Linked DNA regions of Homo sapiens. The protein of the gene in region 2 interacts with the protein of the main gene of each other region in a biochemical or structural test. Each region holds a gene or a part of one and is shown on either strand. Other genes may lie near its edges.

The links. The genes of interacting proteins can lie anywhere in the genome.
Region 1: the proteins of ARNT (region 2) and KPNA3 form a complex in vitro, tested with the Homo sapiens proteins (one study listed by BioGRID).

The regions. Positions count from the first base shown.
Region 1 is NC_000013.11:49,702,143-49,705,730, reverse strand, and holds part of KPNA3 (importin subunit alpha-4), read left to right. Parts: coding exon 1-110; intron 111-3,250; coding exon 3,251-3,345; intron 3,346-3,588. UniProt on the Homo sapiens protein: Functions in nuclear protein import as an adapter protein for nuclear receptor KPNB1. Binds specifically and directly to substrates containing either a simple or bipartite NLS motif.
Region 2 is NC_000001.11:150,831,511-150,835,167, reverse strand, and holds part of ARNT (aryl hydrocarbon receptor nuclear translocator), read left to right. Parts: intron 1-527; coding exon 528-630; intron 631-2,768; coding exon 2,769-2,834; intron 2,835-3,264; coding exon 3,265-3,350; intron 3,351-3,657. UniProt on the Homo sapiens protein: Required for activity of the AHR. Upon ligand binding, AHR translocates into the nucleus, where it heterodimerizes with ARNT and induces transcription by binding to xenobiotic response elements (XRE).

The DNA of each region.
Region 1 (3,588 bases), on a different chromosome or scaffold from region 2:
AGTGAAAGATTCTCAAGTGGTTCAGGTGGTTCTAGATGGTCTAAAAAACATTCTGATAATGGCCGGTGATGAAGCAAGCACAATAGCTGAAATAATAGAGGAATGTGGAGGTAAGAGTGGATTGATGGAAGAAGAGTATTTGAGCACTGGAACTCTGAAACATAAGTTCTTTAAAGTCAACTTACTAGACAGAAAATTACTAGGATACGTTGTTTTTAAATGATCACAGTATGTTGCTTTTCTTTATTCACTATATTTGCATTCCAAGAGGATTTTCCAGAAGACAGTAGTCCATACTTTGCAAAATCAGGTTGTGAAAGTCACTGTATAGCCTTCTAGAGATTGACAACATAGCTTTTTTTTTTTTTTTTGGAGACAGAATCTTGCTCTGTCGCCCAGGCTGGAGTGCAGTGGCACAATCTCAGCTCATTGCAACCTCTGCCTCCCGAGTTCAAGCAATTCTCACACCTCAGCCTCCCAGGTAGCCGGGATTACAGGCGCACACCACCACACCCAGTGGATTTTTGTGTTTTTAATAGAGACGAGGTTTCACCATGTTGGCCAGGCTGGTCTCGAACTCCTGACCTCAAGTGATCCACCTGCCTCAGCGTCCCAAAGTGCTGGGATTACAGGCATGAGCCACTGCGCCTGGCCTGACATTGCATTTTAGGAAACACTAATACTTCTCTTGAAGTCACAGTGCATGACAGCAAATTTAAGAGCCCTTACAACACTACATAAATTTTAAAGCTTTATTTAATCCAGCATTTCTTAAACTTCTTAACAATGAAACACTTTTTTTGTGTGTTATTACCATGTAATTCTGTGGACCCCACTTTAGGAAATATTATTTCATATAGTTGGAAAAGGTTACTGACTTCTGAGTCACCTAGATATTTTGTTTCAATCTTGTAATGATTCTTAGGATTTCCACAACTACATCCTGAAGTTATTACTGTGGCAGTTACTTTGAAATTTTAATGAGAAATAATTGTGATTTGACATACTGTATTATTCTTTAATGACATGTGAAACATATGTTAAAATTCTGTTTTTAAATGTACATGTTCAATATGTACTAACATGTTTAAACCTTAAATTAGTTTATCATAATGTCATGTTTTAGATTTTACATTTCATTGACTACTTTATATGAATATTCTATTGTTTATTTATTTATTTATTTTAAGAGAAAACAAATGCAGTAGTACCGTAGAATATTCAGACTGGGAGGATTTCTTTCTTTCTATTTATTTATTTATTTATTTATTTATTTATTTATTTATTTATTTATTTTTTATTTATTTATTTTTTTTTTGAGACAGAGTTTCGCTCTTGTTGCCCAGGCTGGAGTGTAATGGCTCACCGCAACCTCCGTCTCCCGGGTTTAAGCAATTCTCCTACCTCAGCCTCCCTAGTAGCTGGGATTATAGGCATGCACCACCACGCCCGGCTAAATTTTTGTATTTTTAGTAGAGGCAGGGTTTCTCCGTGTTGGTCAGGCTGGTCTTAAACTCCCAACCTCGGGTGATCTGCCCGCCTCGGCTTCCCAAAGTGCTGGGATTACAGGCGTGAGCCACTGCACCCAGCCGGGAGGGTTTCTTGAGAAGAAATTATCCCACAGATTTTAAGGAGTCTTGTCCAAGGTGACAGAAGTAGGTTGTGATAGAAGCAAAGTTAAAATCCAGATCTTCTTACTATTAAGATAATTAAAAATTGTAGTCAGGTTCATAACACAGTAAGTTTGAGCAACTTAGAGAATTACTACTCTTCAGCTTTTTATCAATATAGTTACTTTTGTCTATAGGAGTAATAGGATACATATTAATATTTTATAATTGTATAAAGCACTTTGGCAACGATTTCCCCCATTCTTTTGGTTTATTAGTATATAAGAAAAAATTGCAACTATTTTAAAATAACCTTCAAAAAGACATTTCAAGGAAGAATATTAAGGTGTGAAATTGATAAACATGTATATGATGTGTGGAGTAAATATATTGGAAATATAAATGAAGGCATTCTATGATATCTGTTCTGGAAATATTTTCTCCCAGGTTCATTGTGGCTATAGGACATAAGACCTCTATTCATTTTTTAAAGAAAGTTTTTCAAAATTTAAATCTTTATATCTTTTATACCAATTATAAGGTTCTAAAAACTCATTTTGTGGTTATATAAAGGTAATAACATTTGGAAAACAAAGAGAAAGATACAAATTACTTTATGAGGCAGTAAGATTAATAAGATTGGCCGGGTGCAGTGGCTCACTCCTGTAATCCCAGCACTTTGGGAGGCCAAGGCGGGCGAATCACGAGGTCAGGAGTTCGAGACCAGCCTGGCCAACATGGTGAAACCCCGTCTCTACTAAAAACACAAAAAATTAGCTGGGCATAGTGGTGGGCACCTGTAATCCCAGCTACTTGGGAGGCTGAGGCAGGAGACACTTGAACCCAGGAGGTGGAGGTTGCAGTGAGCCGAGACGTGCCACTGCACTCCAGCCCTGGCTACAGAGTGAGACTCCGTCTCAAAAAAAAAAAAAAAAAAGAAAGAAAGAAAAAATGCCCAGGCGCAGTGGCTCACGCCTGTAATCCCAGCACTTTGGGAGGCCGAGGTGGGCAGATCACGAGGTCAGGAGATCAAGATCATCCTGGCTAACATAGTGAAACCCCGTCTCTGCTAAAAATAGAAAAACTTAGCCGGGTGTGGTGGCGGGCGCCTGTAGTCCCAGCTACTTGGGAGGCTTAGGCGGGAGAATGGCATGAACCCAGGAGGCGGAGCTTGCAGTGAGCCGAGATCACACCTCTGCACTCTGCACTCCAGCCTGGGTGACAGAGCGAGACTCCGTCTCAAAAAAAAAATAGATTAGTAAATTTATATTAAAGCACTGTGGGGGAGTTGGTTCTAGTACTGTCACAAACTTGCCATATAACTTGAAATAAGTCTCTTTACATATTTATGCCACAGCTTCCCTCTGTCAAATGGATTGTTTGGGTGTTTTTTTAGACTGTCTGCCTCAGGGATCCGGGTACCTCAAGGGCTTCTAAGAAGGAAAAAATTAGTGGGATTCTGGTCCTCCAACTAGAAGCAGCCCCGTGTTTTGTCTGTTTTTTAGACAAACCACTATCTTAGATGGGGGAGCAGTGTGTTCTGAGTTCCTTAGGATTTCTCCATGATTAAAATGAGTGTGGTTTTGATTAGTATCTCCTTATCAATTAACCAGTTATTTTGATTATTTTATTTTTACCAGGTTTGGAGAAAATTGAAGTTTTACAGCAACATGAAAATGAAGACATATATAAATTAGCATTTGAAATCATAGATCAGTATTTCTCTGGTGATGATGTAAGTAGATATTAAAATAGCGTGTATCTTCATGTAAATGAAAACCTATACATGATGTAAATTTACTAAGAGTTTTCCTTTTATTATTAGGATGACATAAGTTTGTACTGTATTTCTATTAGACATTCCATCAGTCACTTTCTCTTAAATACTTTGAAACTTCATTATAAGGTAAAGTTGTAAAAACAGTTCTTGTTTCATTTCTAATCTATTAACTAGGAAGAAATAGTAATTATATAAGTG
Region 2 (3,657 bases):
TTTTTCTTTTTATTCTTTTTTTTTTTTTTGAGACAAGGTCTTGCTTTATTGCTGAGGCTAGAGTACAGTGACTCTTCACAGGCACAGTCATAGCACACTACAGCCTCAAACTCCTGCCCTCAAGCAGTCCTCCTGCCTCAGCCTCCTGATTAGCTGGGACTACAGAAAAGTACTTGTTTTTCAACCAATGACATTTACTCTGTATGTATGTCTGTATGTGTATACAGATAATCAGCTATGAGAATATAGCCTTGCCTCTTGTTTTCTACTACTACTTTCCACTCCTACTTTTCCTTGCACAATGTTATTTTCAATGCTGCCTTTGAACTTAAGAGTGAGATTCATTGATGATAATTGAAGTATTTTAGGCTTGAAAAAAAATTCATCTCCTGCTTGGTCAGTTCTGTTATAAGCAAGGAGATTAAGGGCATGAATAGGATGCTTACTTATCTTTGCCTTCAGTATCTCTCCCCCTCTTCCCCACACACAAAAATGCACTCCAGACTGCTCTTCACATCTTCCTTCAGGGCGTATCCTGGATCTAAAGACTGGAACAGTGAAAAAGGAAGGTCAGCAGTCTTCCATGAGAATGTGTATGGGCTCAAGGAGATCGTTTATTTGCCGAATGAGGTGAGTGTCAAGCTGAGGATTGTGATTTGGTATAGGAAGGATCAAGAGCTGAGAGTTTTATTTCTGTCAGAGTTAAGTTGGATTAGCTCCAGTGGATTAAATTTAACTCTCCATACCCAGATGGATTGTAACACAGAATAAAGTATTTGGAAAGGGAACTAACGTTTCTGAACTTGCCAGACACTATGATAGGTGCTTTATATCTGTCATCTTATTTTATCCTCACAATTGCCTTGTAGTGTAAGATTGATGGTTACCATTTTGCAGATGGAAAAACAGATATAAAGAAATGAACTTGGCCAGGTGCAGTGGCTCAAGGCTGTAATCCCAGCACTTTAGGAGGCTGAGGCGAGTGGATCACCTGAGGTCAGGAGTTTGAGACCAGCCTGGCCAACATGGTGAAACCCCATCTCTACTAAAAAAAAACAACAACAAAATTAGACGGGCGTGGTGGCGTGCGCCCATAATCCCAGCCACTTGGAGGCTGAGGCAGGACAATTGCTTGAACCCAGGAGGTGGAGGTTGCAGTGAGCCGAGATTGTGCCATTACACTCCAGCCTAGGCAAAAAGAGTGAAACTCTGTCTCAAAAAAAAAAAAAAGAAAAAGAAAAAGAAATGAATTTCCCACTGTTACATACTGTTTGATACAGGATTTTGTTTTAATTCATAGTAGTCTGACTACAAAACCTCTACTTTTTCCCTGTTACAACACAAGGCAATATCCATTTACTCAGACCATTTCTTCTTTTTTTTTTTGGTTAGAAATTTGAGACTTCCTATGTCTTTCAGTAGGTGTTTAGTGTTTATAAATTATATACTGTACGTTTTAGGATTCTGTAGAAAATATGGTGGTCCTTTCTATACAGGTACAAAAGGCATCTCAGGGTCACAAAGTTCAGGCTATATAATGGAAATTGACTACATTGTACTGAGAGGATAGTTGCTAGAAATTATGGGTAGGATATTAAAGGTTTGCTTGGAGAGGCACAAAATTGAACATTATGTGGTTTAGTGATTTATTTTTATTTTTATTTATTTATTTTTTTGAGACAGAGTCTTGCTCTGTTGCCCAGGCTGGAGTGCAGTGGCATGATCTTGGGTCATTACAACCTCTACCTCCTGGGTTCAAGCGATTCTCATGCCTCAGTTTCCTGAGTAGCTGGATTGCCACCACAGCTGGCTAATTTTTGTATTTTTAGTAAAACAGTGTTTCACCATGTTGGCCAGGCTGGCCTCAAACTCTTGACCTCAAGTGATTCGCCTGCGTCAGCCTCCCAAAGTGCTGAGATTACAGGCCTGAACCACTGCACCCAGCGTGTAATTTAGAGTAGCTTCTAGACCCAGACTGCTGGATTTTGTTTTAATCCATATTCTATGGATTTGAATTCTAGCTTTGATGCTATCTTCTGAAACCTTGGATGATTACATGACTACATTGTGCTTTGATTTCATCATCTCACATTGGCGATAATGTTAATACTGACTTTATAAAGTTGTTATGAAGATTAGATGAATTAATATATGTAAAGATATTTAGAACAGAGCATGACACATATTAACCCTATGTAAGTTTTATTTTTGTTTTAAAGGATAGGGAGAGGGAAAGTAGCATTGGCAGGAGTATCCCAATATGTGGACATGGCTAATGCAAAGACATAGGCAAGAGCAAGATAATAATGAACTGTAGCAATTACATTAAGTTGTGGTTAATGTAGAGCAGGAGTAAGCAAACCACAGCCCTTTATTTGTAAATAAAGTTTTATTGGAACATAGCCATGCCCATATTTTTACATATTATCTATGGCTATTTTCATGCTATAATGCTAGAGTTGACTAGTTGCAACAGACTTTCTGGCCCGCAAAGCTGAAAATATGTACTATCTGGTCCTTTACAGAAAAAGCTTGCCAACTCTTGATGTTGAGAATGTTTGCATATGAAGAACATATGGAACATTTTGACTTCAAATTCTAAAAGTTTTAGAAATACTAAACTTGACCTATCTTTATCCTTCATTATTAGTAGCATTACCAATTTTCTATGTCTGGTTGTATCCAGAGCATGTTATTCTGCTATTACTGTGGAAAGTTCTTTGATAGGGCAGTCTGATTGCTTTTAATCTCTTTATTCCTTGAAACAGGTGTGGCAGTAGCTCTGTGGACCCAGTTTCTGTGAATAGGCTGAGCTTTGTGAGGAACAGATGCAGGTGAGATCCTAAGTGGTGAAAACCAAAGGGATGGCCAAATACCTGCAGAGATCATCACATTTTTACCTGTCTTACTGTAGTCGTTCCTTCAGCAGCTCTCACTTGCATCCCTTACCTCCCACTTAACATCCCTTACCTCCCACTTACTTTTTTTCTGGCAATATTTTCCTAAACTTCTAAAACTTCTCTTGAAAATCCTGTTTAAGGAAGTCGCTATGCTATTTTACCTACTTTCCTCCTACTGCATACCTTTTGGTTACTTTACTTTGGCAAGGGTAAAAATGTGGCGGTCATTTTTGGGTGGGAAAGATGATTATCCTGTTTTCTAAACTCCTAAGAGCATAAACTTAAAAGTACTAAGGCAGCATTGCCCTTTGAGTTTTACGGGTAGATTTTTTTTTTTTTTTTCAAACTCCTGTAACTCTTCTAGGAATGGACTTGGCTCTGTAAAGGATGGGGAACCTCACTTCGTGGTGGTCCACTGCACAGGCTACATCAAGGCCTGGCCCCCAGCAGGTAAGAAAGTGAAATAGTAAATATTTCCCCTTGGTACAGTTGGTTCCTCACAGAGTCCATGAAAGCTAATATTTATTATATACCTGGTATATGAAATGTACTTTTGTGTAAGATGAAAGAAAATAGGAAAAGAAAATGTACAATCCTTCCCTTCCATTATTGAGCTTTTATTCCAGTTGAGGAGATAGATAACTCAGGCTGGAAAATGATTCAGTATTGGCTGTGTCACAGAATGTGGTTTTTATGTGAACAAATTTATACTGAACATATGTATTCTAAGCATTTGTTGCAAAGAAACTTAGACATT